Regions from separate parts of the Homo sapiens genome. Here region 1 is linked to region 2. The links come from fine-mapping of genetic effects on gene expression. Tissue or cell type: whole blood. Region 2 holds a variant in brackets; the other region holds the start of a gene. All regions are shown on one strand. Distances are from middle to middle.

Evidence for each region. PIP is the estimated chance that this variant, and not a neighbour inherited with it, causes the effect.
Region 1: it holds the start of SCARA5, and the variant in region 2 is fine-mapped to the expression of SCARA5 in whole blood (TOPMed, PIP above 0.99).

The regions. Positions count from the first base shown.
Region 1 is chr8:27,988,436-27,994,743 of GRCh38, forward strand. SCARA5 (scavenger receptor class A member 5) reads right to left here and starts at 4,238. Exons shown (of 9, transcript NM_173833.6): 1 at 3,822-4,238.
Region 2 is chr8:27,886,904-27,895,168 of GRCh38, forward strand. All of the region lies in intron 7 of SCARA5 (scavenger receptor class A member 5), which reads right to left. Among named protein-coding and RNA genes, the nearest start is that of MIR4287, 4.9 kb to the left of the region's middle. RefSeq lists enhancers at 5,921-6,507, 8,020-8,265. The variant G/A (reference allele first, on the strand shown) is at 3,479.

The DNA.
Region 1 (6,308 bases), 100 kb after region 2:
CAACAATGTGTACAACACGATCCCATTTTGTAAGACATGCACGCGTAAGGTGCGTGTGGATGTAAGACGCTATGATGGCTCCGGGTGAGAAATGTATTACAGGACTCTGGCTGGAAGGGATTGTGGGGATTTAATATTCCTTTTTGCTTTCAGATTTTCTGGGTTTTCTATGATGCATTTACATTCCTTATGTAATGAGAAGAATCTGTTTTTTAAGCCAAATTACAAAGTATATACATCAATTTCTTGATATTGTTTTTGTCACATAAATGCTCAGTGACTTTACAAATTATTCTCTACTTTCATCAAGGTTCCAGCCATGAGTTTATCTTGACCTTTGCTTCTGATTCTCTTTAACTATCTGGACATTTAACCAAAGAACAGCATCCTTTAGAAGATAAAAGCCCCATGAGGATGGGTCCCAGGCCCAGTATGGAGCAAACTCAACCCTTCAACCCAGAGGAGGCTGGGAGGAGAGGATGCAGGGCTGGCAGGTGGCAGTGGGGGGACAATGCCTGTTGATTGAGAGATCAGTCAATCAGTTTCTCTTCAGAGGGAGGGTGGGCAAGGAGGCGTGGCAACTTTCATAAATAGACATAATCAGGGAAGGCGGCTGGCGGGGTTGCTCTGCAGCAGAGCAAAACAAGAATTCCGTATTTTCTTTCTTCTTTTTTTTTTTCTGTTTCTTTCTTTCTTTTTTTTTTTTTTTTTTTTTTTTGAGACAGGGTCTCACTCTGTTGCCCAGGCTGGATGGCAGTGGTGCAGTCTTGGCTCACTGCAACCTCCGCCTCCCGGGCTCAAGTGATCCTCCCAACTCATCCTCCTGAGTAGCTGGGATTACAGGCACAAGCCACCATGTCCAGCTAATTTTTTGCAGAGATGGGGTTTCACCATGTTGGCCAGGCTGGTCTGGAACTCCTGGAGTCAAGCGCTCCACTGGCCTCAGCCTCCCAAAGTGCTGAGATTACAGGTGTGAGCCACTGCACCCAGCTGAAGCCCCTATTTTCATGACTTGAGCTTGGCCTCCACAGACCTCTGACATTTGGGCTGAGAAGAGACCAGAACTGACCAGTCACTGTATACATGTCCTTCTAATGACCCAGGAGGGCTGGACGCCTCTGCTGTTAGCCCTTCTGTACATCCCCCATAACGGGCACACACACGCATGTGCACACACACAGCCTTGGGGCTCCCAGTATCTGCGGGCCTCTCCTCCAGCCTATGGGAGGGATGGAACAGGGGGTGGTCCTCGGCTCTGCCAGGATCTCTCCTCCCTGCCCCAGACACCACCCACTCTGGCTTCCCTGTGCTGCAGTGGTGTCCAGTTCACTGGGCTCCCAATTCCGGCCCTCCACCCAATGCCTCCACCCAGGCAGGGCCTCTAGGTGGGGCCGCGGGCAGCTCCAGCACTGCTAAGTTGCAAGGGACCCTCCCTCATTTCATGAGCACTGTGTGCGGCAGCCCTCCCTCTGGCTTCACTCCTTGCGGGGCTGTGAAGCAGGAGGCCAATGTCTCTTTTGCCTGCAATAACCCTCCCTCTGCCAAAGGCAATAGCCTCTGCTTCCCAGAGGCCACACAGAGCCAGACAGGGCGCTGCCCCTGGGGAGTGGAGGTGTGAGGCCCCACTGCCATTTCCACCTTCCTCCTCTTCTGGTCAGCTCCTGGGACGGGGCTGGAATGCACGGCTTGTTAGCCAGAATGTGTGTGAAGGGCAGCTGTCTCCTTCCTCCTCCCCACCCCTCAGCTGGTCCAGCAGGAGCCCAGGGGATCTGCTGGGGAGAGGGACTGGGGCCGAGCGGGGCCAGATGTGAGTGCACAGGGCTTGGAAAAGCTCAGACAACTCTACTCATGTTTGTTACTTGGAATTGAAACCTACGCATGTTCTGTCTGCCCAAGGTTTCTTGGGGGCTGTTTTTCTTTCTTGGGGGAGGAAGCAGGCATTGGGACCCTCAGATCATGGATCTTACTGTCTTTGGACCAAGTCTGTGCTCTAGAAGATGAAACTGATGGCAAGTGCTCCTCCCAGGAGCACTGTGTTGGGGGTAGGCTGATGGCATTTGCATTCCGTCCCTCCCATTTTAAACATAAGCCATCCCAGACCAAAGAGGCAAAGGAAGGAATGGATATCAGAGCGGGAAGAGGCCCCGGGCACAGTTTTCCTACACAGGGCACTGGCTCAGCTGCAGGGTTGCTTTGTTTGGGAATTGCATGTCAGCCCCTTTGGTGACCACTTTCTGGGCCCCAGATCAGGCAGAGAAGAGAATCCCACCTCAGACTGCCAGCCAGTGTACTCCAGCAGGTGGGGATCCTGGGACTGAGGCAGGGCTCTGAGAGCTTGAAGCACATGGGCGAGATGTGGAAGCCACAGTGACCTGTGGATGAAGCCCAAGGAGACTGGACCTCAACTTGCAACTCAAAGAGGGAGGTCTTGCTCTAACAGGGAGGTGTCACCCTCTCCACTAACCTCTTGGCAATCATGATTTACTTCCAGACAATTTCACCCAAGGCACTTAGAAGGGCAGGTTCAGAGCCAGGGATCTGCTTCTAGATTCTGCATTTTAGAGCTGGAAAAGCCCTCAGCCATCTGTGCCCTGCAGCCCTGTGCCCTGGGGCCATCTGCGCCCTGCAGGCCTGGCTCTCTGCAGGAATGCAGGGAACACAGAAGCCAAGGGCTCCCATCCTAGCTCCTCTGCGTATTGGTTTCTTGGGGGAACTTGGCTCAATTACCTGACCTCATTCAGCCTCAGGTACATGACCTCTAAGATGGGAAGGTGGGTAGCTGCTGGTCACCCAGGATCACTGTGAGCCTCCCGTGAGATAATGCATGTGGCATGACTTTATGAACAAGGTCACTCAGGGGAGCTGGTGGCAGTCTGATGAGAAAAAGCATCCCCCAGCATCTTCTGACTCTGCCTGGCAGCCAGGTAAGGGGGTGTCCAGGTTCCCAAGGCCTCCCTCCTACCTAGCCAGTCTCAGAAACAAAGCTGTTTGAAGTTCCCTTTGTAAAAGGCAATCGCGAATGCACTCTAGGGCTGATATCAGGACCCTGGCTCTTCAATCCTTCTCTGGAGATCAGAAGGACTCCATTAATTCCTCCTCTGAGTGGGTAGCACGAGCCTCATTTGCTGCTACCAAGTCAGTTTCTCTGGGTACCCGCATCTAACTCTGCAGGGTTTATGGCTTTTCTTTGGATTACCTCACTTTAAACTCATCAAAACCAAGGAAAAAAATCACATGAGTGTGGCCCTTCTCCAAAGAGAGAATCACTAAGGAGGTTTTAAATGTTTTCCTCCTCTAACTGTACTTAGTTAAGCTAAATCATAACCCAAAGCTGGACAGAGACAGATATTTTAGAAATAACCTCTCCCCACATATATCCCACCACTGGCACATGCACACGCACAGACATGCACACACACACACATGCACACACACACACATGCACACACACACATGCACACACACACATGCACACACACGAAGCCATGGAGAGGAGCTGTCACCTGAGCCATCTGCACCCTGAGTAGGCTCTTGAGCTGTGACATGAGTCAGGTGGAGTAGCCACCAAGGCAATAGCTTCCCTCTGGCACCCCAAATGCAGGCTCACATTCTCTCCAGCCCAGGCAGTTGGATGAGGGCCCGGCAGATATCTGCGGGCCCAGCAGGCGGGGACCTTCCCACCTGGAGAAGGCACCTCCAGGCTCTAGGTCTGAAGTTTCCCAAACTCTGTACTCCTCTCCATCCAGTTCACTCCAGTCTCCTCCAGCTGTCTTTGAGACAGCATGCCCAGGAGATAGGACAAAATTAGTACCAAGACTCACCTGAGTGCCCCTGGCTGAGGCTGTAGAGCCTTGTCCCCTCAGATCTCAGCATTTGCCATGGTGGCCAGAGAGCTGGCTGCCACCACGCTGAGAGCCAGGCCGCCCCTCGGACCGCGTCCCCACAGCCAGCCAAATCCAGATGGAGTCATAGAAAGGGGCTGCAGGGGCGCCCAGGGACGAGTCTCAGAGCAGGACCACAGGGGCCACTTCTGCAGGAGGACCAGGTCAAGATGCAACCTGTGGCAGAGTGGGGGTCTGGGCCTGGGGGACCCAGAATGGGGGGTGTGCGCCTGGGACTCCCTGTCCTTGGTGCCTGGTCCTGGGTAGCGATCAGGAGATGTTCTGAGGAGGCACCGGCAGCTCCTCTAGGTACTGCCTGAGATGCGAACTGCAGCTGCTCTCGCCGCCAGTCCGTATAAAATAAAGTTCTTGGAGCAGTTGCGGAGGCTTCTGCAATGGGGTCTGGAATACGGCCCCCCTCCTGCGGCCAATCGTGGCATTACAGCCCCGTGTGGGAACGCCCGCTGGGCCCAGAGCAGCGCGGTCGGCCTTGGCCTTGGGACTCCAACACCCCAGTCTAAAGGTCCTGCTCAAAATACTTTTTGGAAGACTTCTGGGGGAGTGGCAGCTAGACCTGGCTTATGAGCCACGCAAGAAAACCAGTCTTGTAAATTTATTTATAGCACAGAATTGGCATGGCTCAATTCATTCACCAAGCTTGGCACAGAGTTACTTCATGTATTTTCCTGGAGTCACATTCATCCTCAGTGGACACGGATTGGCCACACTGGGGGTAGTCAGGAAAATGCCCCAGGGGGTTCCACGGAACTCAGCAGCAGAATCAGCGTTTCTGGCTCATTAACGCTGCACAGGGGCTGGGGGGTGCAGGATGAAGACTAGCTGGCTGTCCATAGCAATTCAGTATGGGAGGGGGACCCAGGCACGAATAATCCTAAACCTGAGCATGATTGCTTACGTTTGAAAAAGGACATCTAGGCCGGGTGCAGTGACTCACACCTGTGGTCCCAGCACTTTGGGAGGCTGAGGTGGGAGGATTGCTTGAGCCCACCCACAAGTTCAAGACCAGCCTGGGCAACATAGTGAGACCCCATCTCTAAAAAAAAAAAAAATCTCTTTAAAGGCAATCTAACCATATGTGAAGGGAGCTGCTAAATTCAGATTGAGGTGGTAGTATCAGGGGCATCAGAGAAATCACCATAATTGTCCAAGCCAGGGTGGCAGAGTTAGGCTATGCAGATGGCTTCCAGAGGACAGCACCCAGAGGTAACATTCATGAATGCATTCCTGTTTGTTGGTGAAAAGTTCAGCCTCAAGACTCCAGGGTCAGGCTTCGTACATGAAAAGTGTTTGCCAAGACTCAGCTGTGTCACTGCAGCTGCCCGCCCACAGCTGAGTCAGAAACGCCGTCCTCATTCTCAGTGACTGCCCTGCCTGACTGCCTAGGAAGCAGCTCCAACATCAAACTCCATTTTACAGAAAGAACAAATGATAATTGTATCATTATGGTAATAATCCCAGGGAGCGGAGGAGGAGAAGGAAAAGAAGACAACACTTTATAGCATATACCATGTGTTTCTTATATATTAGCTCATTGAACCTATTCAACAACCCCCTGAGGCAGGTGCTGCTATTATGCTCATTTACAGAGACAGAGAGGAAGTGACTTGTCCAGGGTCTTGTAGCCAGTAAGTGGCAGAGCTAGTATTCAACCCTAGGCAATGTGATCCTAGGGTCTATGCTCTTAACCCCTCCCCTGTACCATTGCCTCTCAAGGGGAAACAAATGTTTTTGTCCCCCATCAATTCACCAACATTCCTAGGAATGTAATCTTAAAAACAGCCAGAAATGTGCTCAAAATATGATGTCCAACCAGCCTGGGCAACATGACAAAACCCTGTCTCTACAAAAAAAAAAAAATACAAACAATAGCTGGGCGTGGTGATGCACACCTGTAGTCCCAGGTGCTTGGGAGGCTGAGATGGGAGGATCAACTGAGCCCAGGAGTTTGAGGCTGCAGTGAGCTGTGATCGCACCACTGCACCCCAGACTGGGTAACAGAACAAGATCCTGTCTTAAAAAAAAAAGTGATGTCCAAAGACCTTCCCTAAAGAGATGTGTATGTTAGCAAGAAATGTGGTAGTTAGTGTCCCCCTAAATTCAAGCATTGGAAATGTAATCTTTATTGCAACAGTGTTGGGAGGTGGGGCCTTTGTGGGGGTATTTGAGTCATGAATGTATTTGGGATGCCGTAGAAAGGGCTTGCAGGAGTGGGCTGGCTTGATCCTCTGCCTTTCTGCCATGTGAGGACTCCACGCTCATCCTCGCTTGTCCTCCCACCTCCCGCCCTGTTCGAAGCACTGAGTCCTATTGCGTGATAGGCACATACCACACACAATGTGTATATCGGTCTCCTGCTGAAGGGGGTTTGGGATGTTTCCAATCTTTGTCTATTATGAATAAAGCTGC
Region 2 (8,265 bases):
TCAGTCCAGGGAGTTTTTTCCTCAGATGCCCCCCAGGAGGGTCCCTGCAGGGGGAACGGGGCTACTGGAGTCAGGGAGATGCCTCTCTCTGCACGTGGCAGTGGAGGAAAATGGGAGACAGGGATTCTTGATTGTGTGAAATTCAGAGACTCCTAGGCTCCAAAGCAAGAGCAGATGCTCCAGGTAGAGGGCAAAGGGCAAGAGAGCTGGTGATGAGCAATGGGACCCCAGGCTTTCGAGGTTGCAGCCACGTCCCCTAGTAACTGCCCTTCAATGACTGCGAGGCACCTTCACCTCCTCCTTGGCATCATACCACATTGAGCCCTGGAAAACCCTTCCTGAGCAAATGAGGATCAGCAACCCGGAAGAAAACCCTGCCCCATACCACTCCCGTGTGGGTATCTGATTTGCACCCCTCAGGTGAGGGCGTTAGGTGCAGAGACTATCACACTTTTCCTCTTGTTCTGGATCCCTAACCTGCAGACTGGGGTCTACCTGTCCATGCCTTCATGGTTTGCAAGTTAAGAGGATGGTACTGGCTACAAGGCTGGTCCCTACCAGCTCTGTGCAGGAATGGCACCGGCACATAGCATCACTTGGCTGGAAAACCCAAGCTGAAGGGAAACACCAAGAGCTATTCCTTACTAAAAACAAGGAGAGGCTGTTCTTGACAGCTTATTCCAATCCCCATCCCACAAGGCTTTGGCAGAGCTTTTTCTTGTAATGCCCACCCCTGCCCCCCATAGCAGAGACACCCAGATATCCACAGGGCTCATCTCTGTTCATCTTTTCCCTGCTTCCCCAGAACTGGGGACCACAAGCCCGAGATGGAGCAGGGACTTAGGGGCTGCTAGGCCCCCAAACATGGAAATAAAAGAAAATCTTGAGTATCTTCAAGGGAAATTCTAGGCTAGCCCCAAGAAGTAAATGAGCAACTTGGTAAGAAAGAAAGAAATAGTAGCTTAAAGCAATAGTCAAAGAAGTTAGAGTCAACCTCTGATGACTCTCTATAGAAACTAAAGAGAACATCTTAACATATGTCCCTGAGGTGTTTTTCAGAAACCCAGCTGGATGTTTTTCAGAAACCCAGAACCAAATGGATTTGCTGGCATATAGACCTCAAATGAGGGGAAACTGAGGCCTGAACTCTGATTGACGGACTTTTTTTTTTGAGACAAGGTCTGGCTCTGTCACCCAGGCTGGAGTGCAGTGGCATGATCTCGGCTCACTACAACCTCTGTCCCCCAGGCTCAAGCCATTCTCTCCCGCCTCAGCCTCCCAAGTAGCTGGGACTACAGGGTGCATGCTGCCATGCCCAGCTAATGATTGTGTTTATTCTTTATTCTCCAGTGCCACAGAATAAAGGAAAATTCCAGGCACCTAGCTAGCTCTGAGGACCTGGAAGAAGTCACATCCACAGGCCAGACCTTAATATTCCTTTCTGCTGAACCCAAGTTTTTAGACAAAGTTTCCCTTCCTTAACCAATTGCAAATCAGAAAGTCTTTGAAGCCATGTATGACCTGTAAGCCCTTGCTTCCAGATTTCCCACCTTTTTAGGCCAAACCAATGTATAACATCCATGTCTTGATTTAGAAATTTGCCTGTAACTTCTGCTCTCCTGAAATTTACCATTGCCTTTAAACAGCCTTGCTTGTAAGCCATCCAGGAGGTTGAGTCTTAAGTGTGAGCTACCAGATTTTCTTTGCTTGGTGCCTTGCAAATAAACACCATGCTTCCTCCCACTGCACAACTTCAGTATGGATGTTTGGCTTTACCATGCCAGGCAAGAAGATCCCACTTCGGTTTGGTTACAAGCCCCATCAACACCCTGTGACCAAGGTTCTTCCCTTTGATACAGAGAAGCAGAAAGAGAAAAGTGCTGTCACCTCAAAGCCCAGACCAGAGCATCCCTGCCTGGTTTCACTGTGTAACCCTAGGAGAGGAAAGTGGTTTGAGGGAACACAGGGCAGGAGACTGGCTCCTGGCTGGGTAGCCTCCTTGCTGTCTCCCAGATCAAGGGGCTCATTGTTTCACCCCACAACTTTTCTGGAGTGTCAATTCCAGCCTCGGCTTGGAGCTCTCTGCCTCACTGCAGCCCCAGACCACAGCACCTGCCTCCCCATTCCTCAACCTGTTGTACTGAGCCTGCCCTTCACCCAGGCCCCACCGGGACCAACCCCATGGTCCTCAGCCACCCTCCTTCTACAGGCCCCAAATCTCTCAAAGCTTGAGCTTGTTCCCCAGTAAAGAGGGTACAGCTGAGGCACAGATGAGGCCAGGTCATGGAGAAGATCAAGGCATGGGTCTGGACAAGGAATCTTAGCATTTTCTCAGGATATCACTAGGAACAACTTCCATTAGCTTAGTTGTCGGCAACAGATGTCCCATTACTTAGTGCTTGGAGTGATTTTTCGGTAATTATGACATCATCTTTGGGCTTTTCCAATAATCACAAATGATGGTGAAGCATAGCATTTGCCAGCTGGTAGAGACTTGAAGATGACACAGTCCACACTCTTTGCATGACACGTGTGGGAGCAGAGGCCCAGAGAGGTGACGTGCCTTACCCAAGTCATCCCGTAGCTAGCAGAAGAGCTGGGGCCTGAACTTGAGACTTAGCCCTCGGGCCAGTTCTCCATCTACACCCTCCTTTCTTTCCCAGAATCCTTTCTTCAGAAGATCCCTGAGCATGGTCCACCAATTTGCATCACGACTTTGATGCAAGATGCCTTTTGATGGAGCAGTTACATGAAAAACAATTACTTTAACCCTGGAACTGCAATGCTTCTAACTAAAATTCATAGAAACAGCTTGGTTTCTCCTGAGTCTTATGGGAGAACCAAGAAGACAGGGTTGCCTTTGTGAAGCACAGCCATTGCTGAGTTTGCATTTGAAAATGAACATGTCAACGATTGCACGCAGGGGAAGGATAAACCAGCCTTGGCTTTTGAGGAAAGTGATAATATTTGTTGAAGTCCGGGGTGATTCTACTTCCCGTGCACAGATATGCAGCACTAAAAATGCATTATCTGTATTAATTCTTTATGTATATTTTATCAATGTCTGTGTTTATTTTTTCAATTGCATATTTATTTATCCATCAATTTGCAGGTATGGAATTACTACCACATTCCAGGATTGTGCTAGGCACTAAGGATGCAAGGATAAATAAGTATTGTCTTTGCCCTGGACTCACTCAAATGAACTAAGAGTTTAAAATAGATAAGAAAGACCACAGAATGTCAAAGCTGGCAGAGAACTCAGGGGCTCCAAAACCCTCAGTTAGAAATGAGGAAACTGAAGTTGACAGAGAAGTCACCAGCCATTACTGGGATGCCAGATCCTTCTCTTTTGAGACCACTTCTCTTTCTGATGCTGGCTACTTTCAGTAACAAACCATAATACAGAGAGAAGACAGTTTGAGGTTAAACCAGCAGGGCCCAGGGTGGGGCAGGCTGGCACTCCTAGAACCAGGTG[G/A]CACTGCTCTCCATCTGTGAAGGTTACAAGCACATATACTATTTTCCCTTGGAAATAGAGACCATGTCTTGTTTGTCCATGGCCCCTTAACACTTAACATGACACGTGGCTGGCTGAGGGCCCTAAATGCTGAATAGATGGCGTGGAGGGCAATGGGTAGATGTGTGCGTGACTTTATGAGCAAGCATGATTGGAATCCCCTTCTGAATGCCTCCGGATCCCTGGTTCCAGTCTCAACCTCCAGTGCCTGCATATTCAGAATGGGTGCTGTTCTCACCCACAGATCCCACCTGCTCAGGGTGGGAGGGGTGGGAAAGGTGCTGCCCCAGCACGGAGGCCACAGCTCGCTGTGCACACAGTGACTTGGGGCCTGACCCTGGATTTCATCGATTTGTGCTGCCCTTCTGAAGGTCATTCTATATCCCCGCCTTGCTAATTGATGTCTAAACATGTATCGATCTAGCCTTGGGGACACAGAGGTATTTCACCCTGTCTCTTCTTTGGATGCAAAATGCTGCGAGGCAGTTCCAGGTTGTCCCGGCAGGTGTGGGTCTGAAGCAAGCAGCGTGGTGGGTGAGGGGAGCCCAGGGCAGAGACTGGATGGGCAGGGCCAGTCCAGGCAAGCTACAAGTGCTCTCGCAAGTCTGAGAGGCATTTCAGACTTCCTCATTTCTTCACTGTCCCATGGGCCTCTCAGGGTTGTTGAGGGGATCAGTGACAAAGACTCTGTAGCCAGGTGCTCTCCTGAACCTCAACCTTCCCTCTATAAAGACACAAGACATGTCTGTATAGATGTGAACAGAACTACAATAGGTTTGTTTTTTTTTTGTTTTTTTTTTTAAATGGAGGAGTCTCGCTCTGTCATCCAGGCTGGAGTGCAGTGGCACAATCTCGGCTCACTGCAACCTTCACCTCCAGAGTTCAAGTGATTCTCCTGCCTCAGCCTCCTGAGTAGCTGGGACTATGGGTGTGCACCACCATGCCCGGCTACTTTTTGTATTTTTAGTAGAGACAGGGTCTCACCATGTTGGCCAGGATGGTCTCGATCTCTTGACCTCGTGATCTGCCCGCTTCGGCCTCCCAAAGTGCTGGGATTACAGGCGTGAGACACTGCGCCCAGCCTACTAATATAGTTTCTAATAGCTCAAGATTCCGCTCCTAGGATGATCTGGACCCCCTTAAAGTGCCTGCCTGAGAAAATGCAAGACTACCAAAAGAATTTCCTGTATGTTCCAGCCAACACCTGAAGACAGGGCCCCTGTCCCCCGTGGGATGCAGAAGCCTCACTGTGATAAGCACCAGTTATCAAACCCAGATGGGTTTTACATGAACTAGCTCCTTTCTGCTTTTTGTAATTTTTCACCTCCCTGACTCTACTGAGTCCCCACTCTTCCCTCTCCCTAATCCCTCATTTTCCCTTAAAATACCCGTCACCTCTGTACACATCGAGGTGGCATTCAGTTCATGCTGGACTCCTCCCTGCTGCAATAGTTATCGCTGATTACAATCTGTTCTTATCACTGTAACTAGGGTCCAGCTTTGTCTGTCTTAGACGTCAGATGTGGTTAGAGCGTGGCTCTCAACAGGCTGGTTGGGTGTGTGCCATGCTCACAGCCCATGGGCATTGCCTTCCACGTGGGAAAGACCGTGAATCATTGGCCTGACTCAGAAGTTCTGTCCCAGCCTCTCTGATGAAGATTAGCAGGGCCACCTCTCCCAGCAGTTCACACTGGGGAATACGGAGAGAGCTGAGCAGACACAAAGAGACTGAGAGGCAGGGATGGTGGAATCAATAAGCCATGTTGGAGAAGAGGCCTCCCAGTGAAAAGCTGAGCCAAAGGGCAGTGGCCCCCAGAACGGCCTTGGATTCCGAGTGACCTTCTCATGCCAGGATCCACAAGGCCCACCTGAACTATGGGTCCTGGTTATCCCAAATCTCCTTGCATATCCTCATTACTTGAAATGACCCGGATGAGTCTCTGGTTCTTGGGACTGGAAAAGCCTGAAGAGGGCACCTGTGAATCCCATGCACCCATCTGAGAACTGATCAGCTACTTGCCTCTGTGGGTCCTGGGGAAATTAGGAATTTGCAAGGCATCACACACTGTCATGGTGATTCCTGTGGGGAGATAACTCAGGAGGGTGGAAGGAGGCAGCTGGACTCAGGAGCAGGATTGGAATCTGACTCCACCATAGGCCAGAAGTGACCTCTCCATACCTCACCCTTTTTTTTTTTTTTTTTTTTTGAGACGGAGTCAAGCTCTGTTGCCCAGGCTGGAGTGCAGTGGTGCGATCTTGGCTCACTCAAGCCCCGCCTCCGGGGTTCACGCTATTCTGCCTCAGCCTCCCGAGTAGCTGGGACCACAGGCGCCCGCCACCACGACCGGCTAATTTTTTGTATTTTTTAGTAGAGATGGGGTTTCACCGTGTTAGACAGGATGGTCTCGATCTCCTGACCTCGTGATCCGCCTGCCTGGGCCTCCCAAAGTGCTGGGATTACAGGCGTGAGCCACCGCACCCAGCCTCTCACCTCTTCTTAAAGTGGACATCATGGTGGCGGCTGGGAGCAACAGGGCATGTCAAGGACTTGGCACCTAACGTGAGGTCTCATCATTGTGAGCTCCCACCCCTGGTCAGGTGGCAGTCCTCCCAGCAGCGTGTGGGTCAGCTCCAAGGGTCCCCATGCTTGGGATGGCTTGGACACCAGTGGCCAAGCAGGGATGTATCCTTGAAAGCCTTTTTGCACTCGTAGGAAGCAGGAACAAAAAGGCTCATCCCCTGAATTGAATGAGTCTCCTCCTAACTTCTGTTCTCCCCAGGGCTTGGTTCCTGGCTCCTTAGCATATTAGGACCAGGGCATCCGTGAGGCAGAAGACCGGCTCCTGCTGTCAGCAACTTTCTGTACATTGATGCAAACTGGATGTTATTTGTTAAGCAAGGCAGCTCTGGAATGGCCCAGGAATGCAATGCTAGGGCTGCGACCACGCTTGAGCTCCTAGTGCAGACCTTAGAAATCTACTATGTGGGGATTCTCCTCTCAAAACAAACATTTCTTTGCTCTCTTTGTTTTGTAAATATATATGTCAGACAAGCAAGGTCCCAGGCAAAGCAGGCTGAGTCTTACCCCAGATGCCCCTGAACCCTGGAGCTGGAAGGGGTCTCGGACATTGGCCTTGAACCCCTCCCCTCTACTTCAAACACACAGATCCTCTCCTCTCTGTAGCACACCAGACAGCTGCTCATCCTGCCTCTGGGAATGGAAGGGAACCCGACAGCATCTCTGGGGAATGCATTACAGGATTTTAAAGCCAGGATCTGGTTTCACTTACTCGCCCTGGCATCTCTGGACATCCCAGGGTTTTGCATCTGATTATTCCCTACCTTATTTTACACTGTGTGCTTGGGGATTCATGGCTATCACTGGGGTGTGAGATGAGGAACAGCCTTTTCCTTCTTTCAGCGCAACTGAGCAAGTGGTTTTATTACTCCGCCCCCAGCGGGTTTAGGAGGACTGTGTAGTGGCCAGTGGCTGCCATCTCTCAGAACTGGCTTCCAAGGCTGGGGTAACCTCAGAGCTATCTACTGCCAGCAGGGCTTGGCCACACCTGGCTCAGGGCCATCCCCAAACCCAGCGACAACACAGCCAAGTTCTGGGTACTACCCAGGACAGAGCTCAAGTCAGGCATAAAAAGAGGAGAGAATGATTATCTACTGAGGTCCCGTCGTGCACAGGCTGGGCACTGTGCAAAGTGCTTTGTGCGTGCATTTGCTCATTTCTTCTTCAGAGGAGCTCCATGAGTTAGTTATTACAGCTCATTTAACAGAAGAGAAAACAGGCTCAGAAAAGTCAAGTAAAAATTTGCTCAGGGTCACACAGCTGCCACATGGAAGAGTCAGAGAGAAGGGCAAAGGCTTGTTATTTTCAATCCACAGAGGCGACTCTCAGGCTGAATGCTTAAGACAAATATTTAATAACAGCCCTCTCCAAACATAAAGTGCTTTTCATCCATCTCACAACAGCCCTATGGGGTCTGCCGGATCCACTCTTCTCAGGCTTAAGGGAATGAGTCTTAGACTGAAAGCAGTAGCTCCAGTCTTGACTGTATCTGGGAAGCACCTGGGAAGCTCTGAAACCCACCAGTGTGAGGGGCCAGTTTTAAACAATTCGTAGGTGATTTTGGTGCACAGCCAAGGCTGAGAAGCTCTGTGGGAGAATGTGGATCTGGGATCAAGCCCCGGCTACACAACTCCCTAGTTGTGGGGCCTTGTGAGTAAGGCAGAGAGATGTCACCTCCTCTGGGAAGGCTTCCCTGATTGTGGCCCCAGCATGTGCTCTCCACTAATGAGAAATCCTGCACCATGATTCCCTCTTCCGTGTCTCTCTGCACTCCCCATGGGAAGCTGCGTGAAGGGGGCCACCATTCTGCATCCTTGTGGTTCCAAATCACATCCCTGCAGCAAACAGAGAGCCTGCACGTTCCAGTGCTCAACAGATGGTGTGGAATGAATGAGTGGGGCAATGAATGGATGAATGGGACTCACAGCATTTGAGGGGCTCTGAGAACGGAGCTGGTCACTAAATACCCCAAAACCTGCTTGGCTGTGCACCAGAAGGGACCTAAAGTCCAGGGAACTTTGCCTCTACAGAAAAGCAGAGGGAAAGCCCACCCTAAGCCTGGAAGATTGCAGCTCCTTTATGTTTGTTTTCCCTGCCTTCCAGTCCCCCTGAAAGAGCAAAACAAGAGGAAAGAAAGGAGGTTGTGGAGAATAGAAATAAACACATGGGG